Regions from separate parts of the Homo sapiens genome. Here region 2 is linked to region 1. A link means that fine-mapping ties the variant in region 1 to the expression of a gene that starts in the linked region. Tissue or cell type: whole blood. Region 1 holds a variant in brackets; the other region holds the start of a gene. All regions are shown on one strand. Distances are between the middles of the regions.

Region 1 (4,166 bases):
GATAGAAACATTGCCCTGAAGAGGGATCCGAGTGAATGCCACAGTTTCCACTACAGTCATGTTTCCATCCAAAATAGAATAAGATCATGCTAATTTGATTACAGGACCTAAATGTAGAAGATAAATGCATATTAAAATAGTAACTAGTAAGATGAATGATATATCTTCCTTACCAAACTGAAACCTCCCATAGGAAAACAATTTGGCTGGTTAAAGTAATTGAGGATTCTCAGCTTAAAGAAGAGAAAATGATGAAGAAAAAGAAATCATGGTTTTAGAAAAATCTCAAGCTGGGTACAGTGGCTCACATCTGTAATCCCAGCACTTTGGGAGGCCAAGGCGGGAGGAACACTTGAGGTCAGGAGTTCCAGACCAGGCTGACCAACATGGTGAAACCCCATCTCTATTAAAAGTACAAAAATTAGCCGGGCATGGTGACAGGCACCTATAATCCCAGCTACTCAGGAGGCTAAGGCAGGAGAATCACTTGAACCCAGGAGGCAAAGGTCACAGTGAGCTGAGATCGCACCACTGTACTCCAGCCTGGGCAACAAAATGAGATTCTGTCTGGAAAAAAAAAAAAAAAAAGAAAAAGAAAGAAAGAAAAAGAAAAATTCCAAACCAAGCCACCATTTTTACAAATGAGGAAATTCTAGAGAAATAACTTGATTCGAGTCATAGAGTTATTGACAGAATTGGAACTAATAGCAGGCCTACTTATCTCACTACTAGATAGCTCACTATTTCCTACATTGGACTGAGCACTATAGGAGAATTTTTCATGAGTAATCTGACGTCCGCCCTCTAAAAAAAAGATAACCTTCATTCAAATAATATGCAGCTAGTGAGTAGAATTAGATTTCAACCAGGAATAGTAAAATTAGATTCTAACCAATTTTATTTTAGAGAGTGGAAGTAACGCTAATAGTTAGAATTTACATAGAAACCAGTTTCAAATGAATGTAGAGCAAAGATGGTTTCAATTTAGAAATTTCCAATAATTGAATAGTCAGTACTATGGTATGTCCCAATCCTGGAAATTATCAGTCAAAAGCTAGATAACCACACTAAAAAGAGTAGAGCTATATATGCTAGCTGTATTCTGGCAGTGTACTAAGTAATTTATCTAGATTATCTACTGTAATCTTCTATATAATCTTGTGAGATGATTTCTTATTATCCCTATATTACATGAAAGAAAATGACCCAATAGACTGCCCAAAGACATTAACCCCTACCATCTGCTGGTCCAGGCCACTATCATCTCTGGCCTGGATTATTACGTTTGCCTTCTAAGTAGTCTTCTTGCTTTCACCCTGGCCCCTGTAGTTTATTCTCTATGCATAAAGGTTAATTTTGTGTGTCATCTTGGCCACAGGATGCCTCCTATATGCCTCATTTCTGGGCATGTGTGTGTGTGTTTCTGGATAAGATCAGTGATATAGCTTGGCTCTGTGTCCCCACCCAAATCTCATCTTGAATTATAACCCCCAGATGTTGAGGGAGGGACCTGGTGGGAGGTGACTAGATTATAGGGGCAGTATCCCCCATGCTGTTCCCATGATAGTGAATTCTCACGAGATCTGGTTGTTTGATAAGTGTGGTGCTCTCTTTCTCGCCTGCTACTATGTAAGACGTGGCTGCTTCCCCTTCCACCATGATTGTAAGTTTCCTGAGGCCTCCCCATCCATGCAGAACTGTGAGTCAATTAAACCTCCTTCCTTTATAGATCTCAGGTATTCTTTATAGCAGTGTGAAAACAGACTAATACAATCAGCACTTGCATCGGTAAACTGAGTAAAGCAGTTTACCCTCCCCATTGCGAGCAGGCATCATCCAATCCATTAAGGGCCTAAAAAGAACAAAAGGAGGAAAGAATTCGTCTCCCTGCCTGACTGCCTGAGCTGGGACATCAGTTTTCTCCTGCCCTCGGACTGGGACTTATACCACTGGCTCTCTTAGTTCTCAAGCCTTCAGACTTGGACTGGAAATACACCACTGGTTCTCCTGGGTCTCCAGCTTGCAGAGAGAAGATCATGGGACTTAGCCTTCATCTCCTACTACTCCCCCTACACACACACACACACACACACACACACACACACACACACACAC[T/ACT]TTTCCAGCCACACCAGCCTCCTTTGCTGTAACAGGATACACCAAGCACACTCCCAACTTAAGACCTCCATACTGCTTCCCTCTGCCTACAACCCTCTTCTCCCAGATATCTGTATGGCTTGTTCCCCATTTCCTTCAGGTCTCTGCTCAAATAACACCTTATCACTGAGACTTCCCTGATCATCTAATAAAGTAGAAGTCCCTCTTCCCCACAGCACTCCTGACCCCCCTCACCCTATTTTTCCATAGCACAAACCATCACCTGACTTCTGTATTTACTTGTTAGCATCTATGTCTCATACGAAAAGTTGAGTTATTTGAAAACCAGGGCTTAATCTGATCGTTCACCACTATATTCAAACCATCAGAACTATGCAAGACACAGCAAATATTTGTTGAATAAATAAAGCCTAAGCTACCAAACTTGAGACCCATTCTCTTAAATGCCAAACCATACTGGCATCCCAGAAAATGACTTCTTTCATTAGGAGGGTGGGGGAACTAGAAGATCTAAGGTCACTTACAATTCTAGGACTATGATGCTATGACAAAGACATTAGGGCCTTAATAGTATGGTTTTCTTCTGCTGTTCTTTCCTCTCTTGCCACATTTTACTACTTTCCTTGAATAAGTAAGTGGTAAGCATTAGGCATGGATGAGATCATAGGTCCAGGAAGCCAGCTCCTCCTTGAGTCATCTCTAATCCATTTCTCATGCTGTTACTGTTTGCTCTTTTTCCACAGATGCCATCTGACCCTGCAGTGGCTCCGTTGTCAGTGGAAAAATATAGTGCCAATAAAATCGGCATTGTAAACCTGTGACTTGACCAATAAATACAAAAGTCACCATAGTATTGTCATTAAATCTCTTAATGGATATAAGCAGTGAGTATATTGAAGTTATTTCACAAACAAAGACAAATTCACTGATTTACTGCTAACCACCCCAAGCAAAGTTAAGGGAAAGCATAAAACTAACCTTGCGGCTGGGCACGGTGGCTCACGCCTATAATCCCAGCACTTTGGGAGGCCGAGGCAGGTGGATCACGAGGTCAGGAGTTCAAGACCAGCCTGACCTACATAGTGAAACCCCAACTCAACTAAAAATACAAAAAAAATTAGTCAGGCCTGGTGGCACATGCCTGTAATCCCAGCTACTCCGGAGGCTGAGGCAGGAGAACCACTTGAACCCGGGAGGCGGAAGTTACAGTGAGCCGAGATTGTGCCACTGCACTCCAGCCTGGGCAACAGAGCAAGACTCCATCTCAAAAATAATAATAACAATAATAATAATAATAATAATAATAAAGAAAAAAACTAACCTTGCAAGCAAGCATATTTAGGTACCAGAAACCAACAGAATAATACAGTGCTTTGAACTGGCAGAACTTAGTTCGGCCCATTTAATAGTAGTAGAAGACGTGGGAATCTGGAGCTGGAGAATTTGAAAGCTTTGGGAAAGGTTGGCAGGTCTCATGACCAGAAGAGGGGACAGAGAATCATTCTGTGGCATTGGCCTTGAGTAAGATCCCTCATTATTTCTTGTGGTTCCAGAGAATTCTCAATAAAAGGAACTTAAAATGATACTAGACTAACATATCAAGCCAACAAGTAATTATATTATTATGTTCTTGGAAGTAAGCAAGTTCTTAAATATGTGGTACTTTGAAACACCCTTTCATCTGAATCTTTTATATCCACCATAAATGTGCTCATCTATTTACTGTCAAAGTTGTATTGGCACTTTTTTTTCCCTGTTAAGTCCTAATTCTAGATATTTAGTTTAAATATTTCAAAGCCACACTTTGAACAAATCCAAAAGAGACATTTCTCTCTATCCTAACTGCTAATCTCTGAGTATCTCAGAATAGCAGTGAGGTTGTAATTACCTATATAACCACCTTTTTATAAAAGGCTAGTGAGGAAGCCAGTCAAATCATTATAGGCTTTCCTTTCTCTGAAATCTTTTTGAAGAACGTAACAGCTCAGCACACTGATGGATCTTAGGAAATAAAGGTAGGTATTGTCAACCCCTCCCTCCCTCCGTCTTAC
Region 2 (4,166 bases), 140 kb after region 1:
CTTTGGGCACCAACAAGTGCGAGAAAGAGGCTGGTGGGGCTGAGGGTGGCTCCGCGTGGGCCTGCAGGCACCCCTCAGCACAAACAGCCTGGGCGCCATGGATGACATGTTGATGGTGGGAGGCAGACACGTTCCTGGGGGGAAAGGGGTAGGTCCCTGCCCACCTTCAAGCCAGGGATGGCCTGAAGCCTGGGGGGCCTGGTGGCCAGTTCCAGGTAGAGTCTGCAGCCCAGAGTGAAAACTAGTGGTGCTTTTTCTGGGCCCACCCATGGGCCAATCAGCACACACTTCCTCCCTTCTGAGCCCATAAAAACCCCAGACTCAGCCAGCGCTCAGGCCTACCAGCTGCAGGAAGGAGCTACCCACTTTGGTCTCCTCAACTCGTCAGGACCACCTGCCTGCAGAAAGGAGCTGCCCACTATGGGTCTCCTCTCCACTGAGGGCAGGACGCTAGTCGGGACAACCCCCCTGCAGAAAGGAGCAACCCACTTCAGGTCTCAGGAGAGCTGTTCTGTCCCTCAGTGAAGCTCCTGTCCACCTTGCTCACCCTCCAGTTGTTTGCGTGCCTCACTCTTCCTGGACACAGGACCAGAACTCAGGACCTGCCAAATGGTAGGATTGAAAGAGCTGTAACACAAATAGGGGTGAAACACAACCCCCCACTCCCAACCACGTTGCAGGCAGCAAGAAGGAGAGATGAGCTGTGGAGTGTGGATAGGATTTGAGTGGGATAAATAGTGTGGAAAATGGCATACCGTTTGAGGGTAGAAATGACACTATTCGCGTATGTTTTGGAAGGGGAACAAAAGGAAAAGGGAAGATTCAAAGGAAATGTCTAATTTTTGTCCTGCAACCCAGAGTCCAGGCAAATTTCACTGATCACATTTCTATTAAGTCCACTGAGTACAAGGATCCTTCAGGTGAGCTAGTGGTTGAAGAGTTGGGAGAAAATAAAGGAAATCACATACAAAAGAAGGCAGCATTGAGCAGGGAAGATACTGCTTTGAGTGTCTGCAGTGTTGAATGTGTAAAAAGCATCTGCATAGATGACCTAGAACTCTGGGAGAAGGGTCTGGACCCGGCCAAATAACATATTTCCTCTATTATAAAACAGAGAGTGTGTGTGAGAGAGGAGAGGAGAAGGAATGGGGTGGGAGGGAGCCTCTCCCCTTATATTTACAGGGGTGTAAATCTATGTGGCTGGCTATGTGAACCTTTAACGTGGCAGGTAGGATCTTTTTCCTTTCGGTGCACCTTACAAGCGATGCGGTCCTCAGAAATACAGATTTGGGAGTTATCTATCACCCAGCATGATTTCTGGAGCATTGATGAGACCGCTGATTAATTCTCCTCCGCCTCAGAGTAACACTGTCGATAGCGACTTCGGAGATCTCTAAACTTCTTTACCGCGCCCGCCGCGCCCCTCCGCGGCCCGGGACTGCTCATCATCTTTTCCAGGAAGCGACCGTGGAAACAATAAACACGCAGGCCCCCTAGCGTCCTTCCGTTCCGCGCTGCCAGGCCGCCTCGCCTCCCGCTCCCGCCCGCCCCGCGGGACACAGCCCGCCCGCACTCCGGGGCCCGAGCGCCGACCACACTCCAGGCGCAGCCGGGGAGAGCCCCGCGCGCGCATCCCTCCGCCCGCGGCCGAGGCGACCCCTCGCGGTCCCGCCCGCCCGAGCTTCCCGCGGAGGCACCCGGCCGCCCCGCCTCCCCCGCCCCGCGCCCGCCAACTCCCAGCTCGCGGCCCTGATTGGTCGCCGCATTCCCGCTCTCCTTCCCGAACCGCCATTTTGAAAATCTTGTTGATTCTGGGGAGCCGAGCGCGCGGCGCGAGCGTCACGCCAGACAGCGGCCCGCGCGCCTTCTCCTCGGCGTCGGCCGCCGCCGCCTCCCAGAACCTCCTCGTGCCCTCGCGTGCCAGGCCCGCGGCGGCCGAAATCCGCGGTAAGGGCTGCTTCGGGACGCCGGAGGCCCGGTCGCCCCTGCCGCGGCCGACGGGGGAGGGACGCGGCCATTTGGACGGCGGCCTGGGGCGGGGGAGGGGACGTGGAGGGCCGGCAGCTCGGGCCGGGCCGGGAACAGCGCAGGCCGGGCGGGCGCGCGCGCACGCGGGGCAGCGGGCGCGGTTTCCCGCCTCGGGAATCCCTGGACGGCGGCGGCGGAGCGGGAGGGAAGCCGCCCCTGGGGACTGAGCGCTGCGGTCCCGGCTATGGGAGGAGGCAACTTTCAGGGCAGGTGTCCCGCGGGAAGGGTAGCATCATTCAGGGTGGCCGCCCGGTCCTGCCTGCGGGAGTAGGAGGACCGAGACGTCCGGCTTTCTTCCCGCATGCAGGTTCACAGCATGTCCGCCTCGGCCCCTGCTGCGGAGGGGGAGGGAACCCCCACCCAGCCCGCGTCCGAGAAAGAACCCGAAATGCCCGGTCCCAGAGAGGAGAGCGAGGAGGAAGAGGACGAGGACGACGAGGAGGAGGAGGAGGAGGAAAAAGGTGGGGGGAGTCGCATCCCAACTGATGAATTTTTCAGACCGAAGTTTTTTTGTATTTTTCACCCAGGAAACAGTTTTCTTGCTCTTTTGGTGTTTAGAGGCGTGAAGTCGGAGTGATTTTCAGCGAGAATGTGTGCACAATTTATCTGCTTTTGTTTTGAGCGATGGCGTAGAATTGACTTTGTGTATTCCGGTTTTTAAAGTATTTGTTAGCGTGGTAGAGATGTATTGGAGTGCAGCCGACTTCTCGTCCGCTCTAAACGTTCGTTAACATTTCATCATTTGACGGGAAGTTTGTAGGTCTTGGATTTGATTTTTTTTTTTACCTGTGTGTGTGCACCTTTGAAGTTGCTAAGTGGATGTTCTAATTTTGTCCTTTTCATTACACATCTTTTGCCTTTTGAAGTTATTGTAAGGTCTTGGTGCAGCCCGTTAAGACTGAAGTTATAAGGCTAGACCCGGAAGTATTTGAATACTTTCGAATATTTTTACATTTACCAAAAAGTTTCCCTCCCTGGCAAACAGCGGTGAAAGCTGTTGCTACTTGAGAAAGTAGTTAAAAATGAAGAAAGTGAACTCTGAAAGAAAGTTAAATGTGAGCCCAGCACTGTCTCGGTTTCGAACCTGTGTCTGTTTTAAGGGAGGGCGATATGAGCCCTGATTTGACTGGAGGTGTGAAACGGAAACTTGACTGAATAGAGGAGTGTGCTGCGGCAGTTTATCCAGGATGCATGCAGTGTCTGTTTCAGGTGTACCCGCTTCTTGACATGTTTCCAAACATTTAAAAATCCGAGTCGCATCTCTTAGCATTCTTTGATATTAGCTTAGTCTGCGGTTATTTCGTATATGTTTACGACTCAGCCACACTTGGGAAGAGGTTGAAGCGCTCTTCCTAAACCCGGATTTTTTTTAAGCCTCAACCAGCCTGTGGTCACAATCTGGGTTAAGATTACAAGGTGTGCCTTTTGTTTGTTTAAAGTGGTATGTGCCCTAAGAAGGGCATATTTAAGTAAAGCATGGCTTTTTAAATATAAGTTTTCACATAAACTATTGCTTAACAACATGTTATTTTAAAATTATTTTTAATACAACAACAAAATTGGCTGCACTATCTCGCTGCTAGCCAAAGAGGCTCTGCACTTTTTCTCCAATTTTTTGTTTGTATTTTGGTCTTCTGGTGGGGGCAGGGTTGAGATGCCAAAGAAATGGTGAATTTTCTTCATGTCAGGAAAAAATTAGAGAAGTCATGTAAATATACTGTAAGTGGCCAACACAGTAATGCTTGGGGAAGAGTTGGTAGTTGAAAGAATCCCATGTTTTGTTCTAGACAAATTATTTTTAAAAACATGATGTTGTAGAAATTTTATCCCCTAATAGTTTTATTGTAGCTGTGATTTATTATTCTTTTTACTAATTTGAGGTGTTTGTGGGACAAGTAGAATTGTGAAAGTTTTTATTTTACTTAACCCTGAATATTTAACTTTAGAACTGAGGCATCATGGAAGCCAGACAGTGAAATACTTTCTGTATTAGGCTTTTTTTTTTTTTTGCGTTACTATAAAGAAACACTTGAGGCAGGGTAGTTTATAAAGAAAATAGGTTTTATTGATTCGTGGTTCTGCAGACAGTACAAGAAGCATGGCGCCAGTATTTGCTTCTGGTGAAAGCCTCAGGAAAC

The links. PIP is the estimated chance that this variant, and not a neighbour inherited with it, causes the effect.
Region 2: DEK starts here. The variant in region 1 is fine-mapped to the expression of DEK in whole blood (INTERVAL, PIP 0.96).

The regions. Positions count from the first base shown.
Region 1 is chr6:18,404,407-18,408,572 of GRCh38, reverse strand. All of the region lies in intron 2 of RNF144B (ring finger protein 144B), which reads right to left. Among named protein-coding and RNA genes, the nearest start is that of RNF144B, 19 kb to the right of the region's middle. The variant T/ACT (reference allele first, on the strand shown) is at 2,116.
Region 2 is chr6:18,262,166-18,266,331 of GRCh38, reverse strand. It overlaps DEK (DEK proto-oncogene), which reads left to right and starts at 1,802. Exons shown (of 11, transcript NM_003472.4): 1 at 1,802-1,947; 2 at 2,336-2,489. The coding sequence starts at 2,345. It overlaps LOC124901270 (a long non-coding RNA gene), which reads right to left and starts at 1,800. Exons shown (of 2, transcript XR_007059486.1): 1 at 1,255-1,800; 2 at 1-602. RefSeq lists silencers at 1,442-1,721, 1,762-2,121, 2,182-2,241 and an enhancer at 2,127-2,678.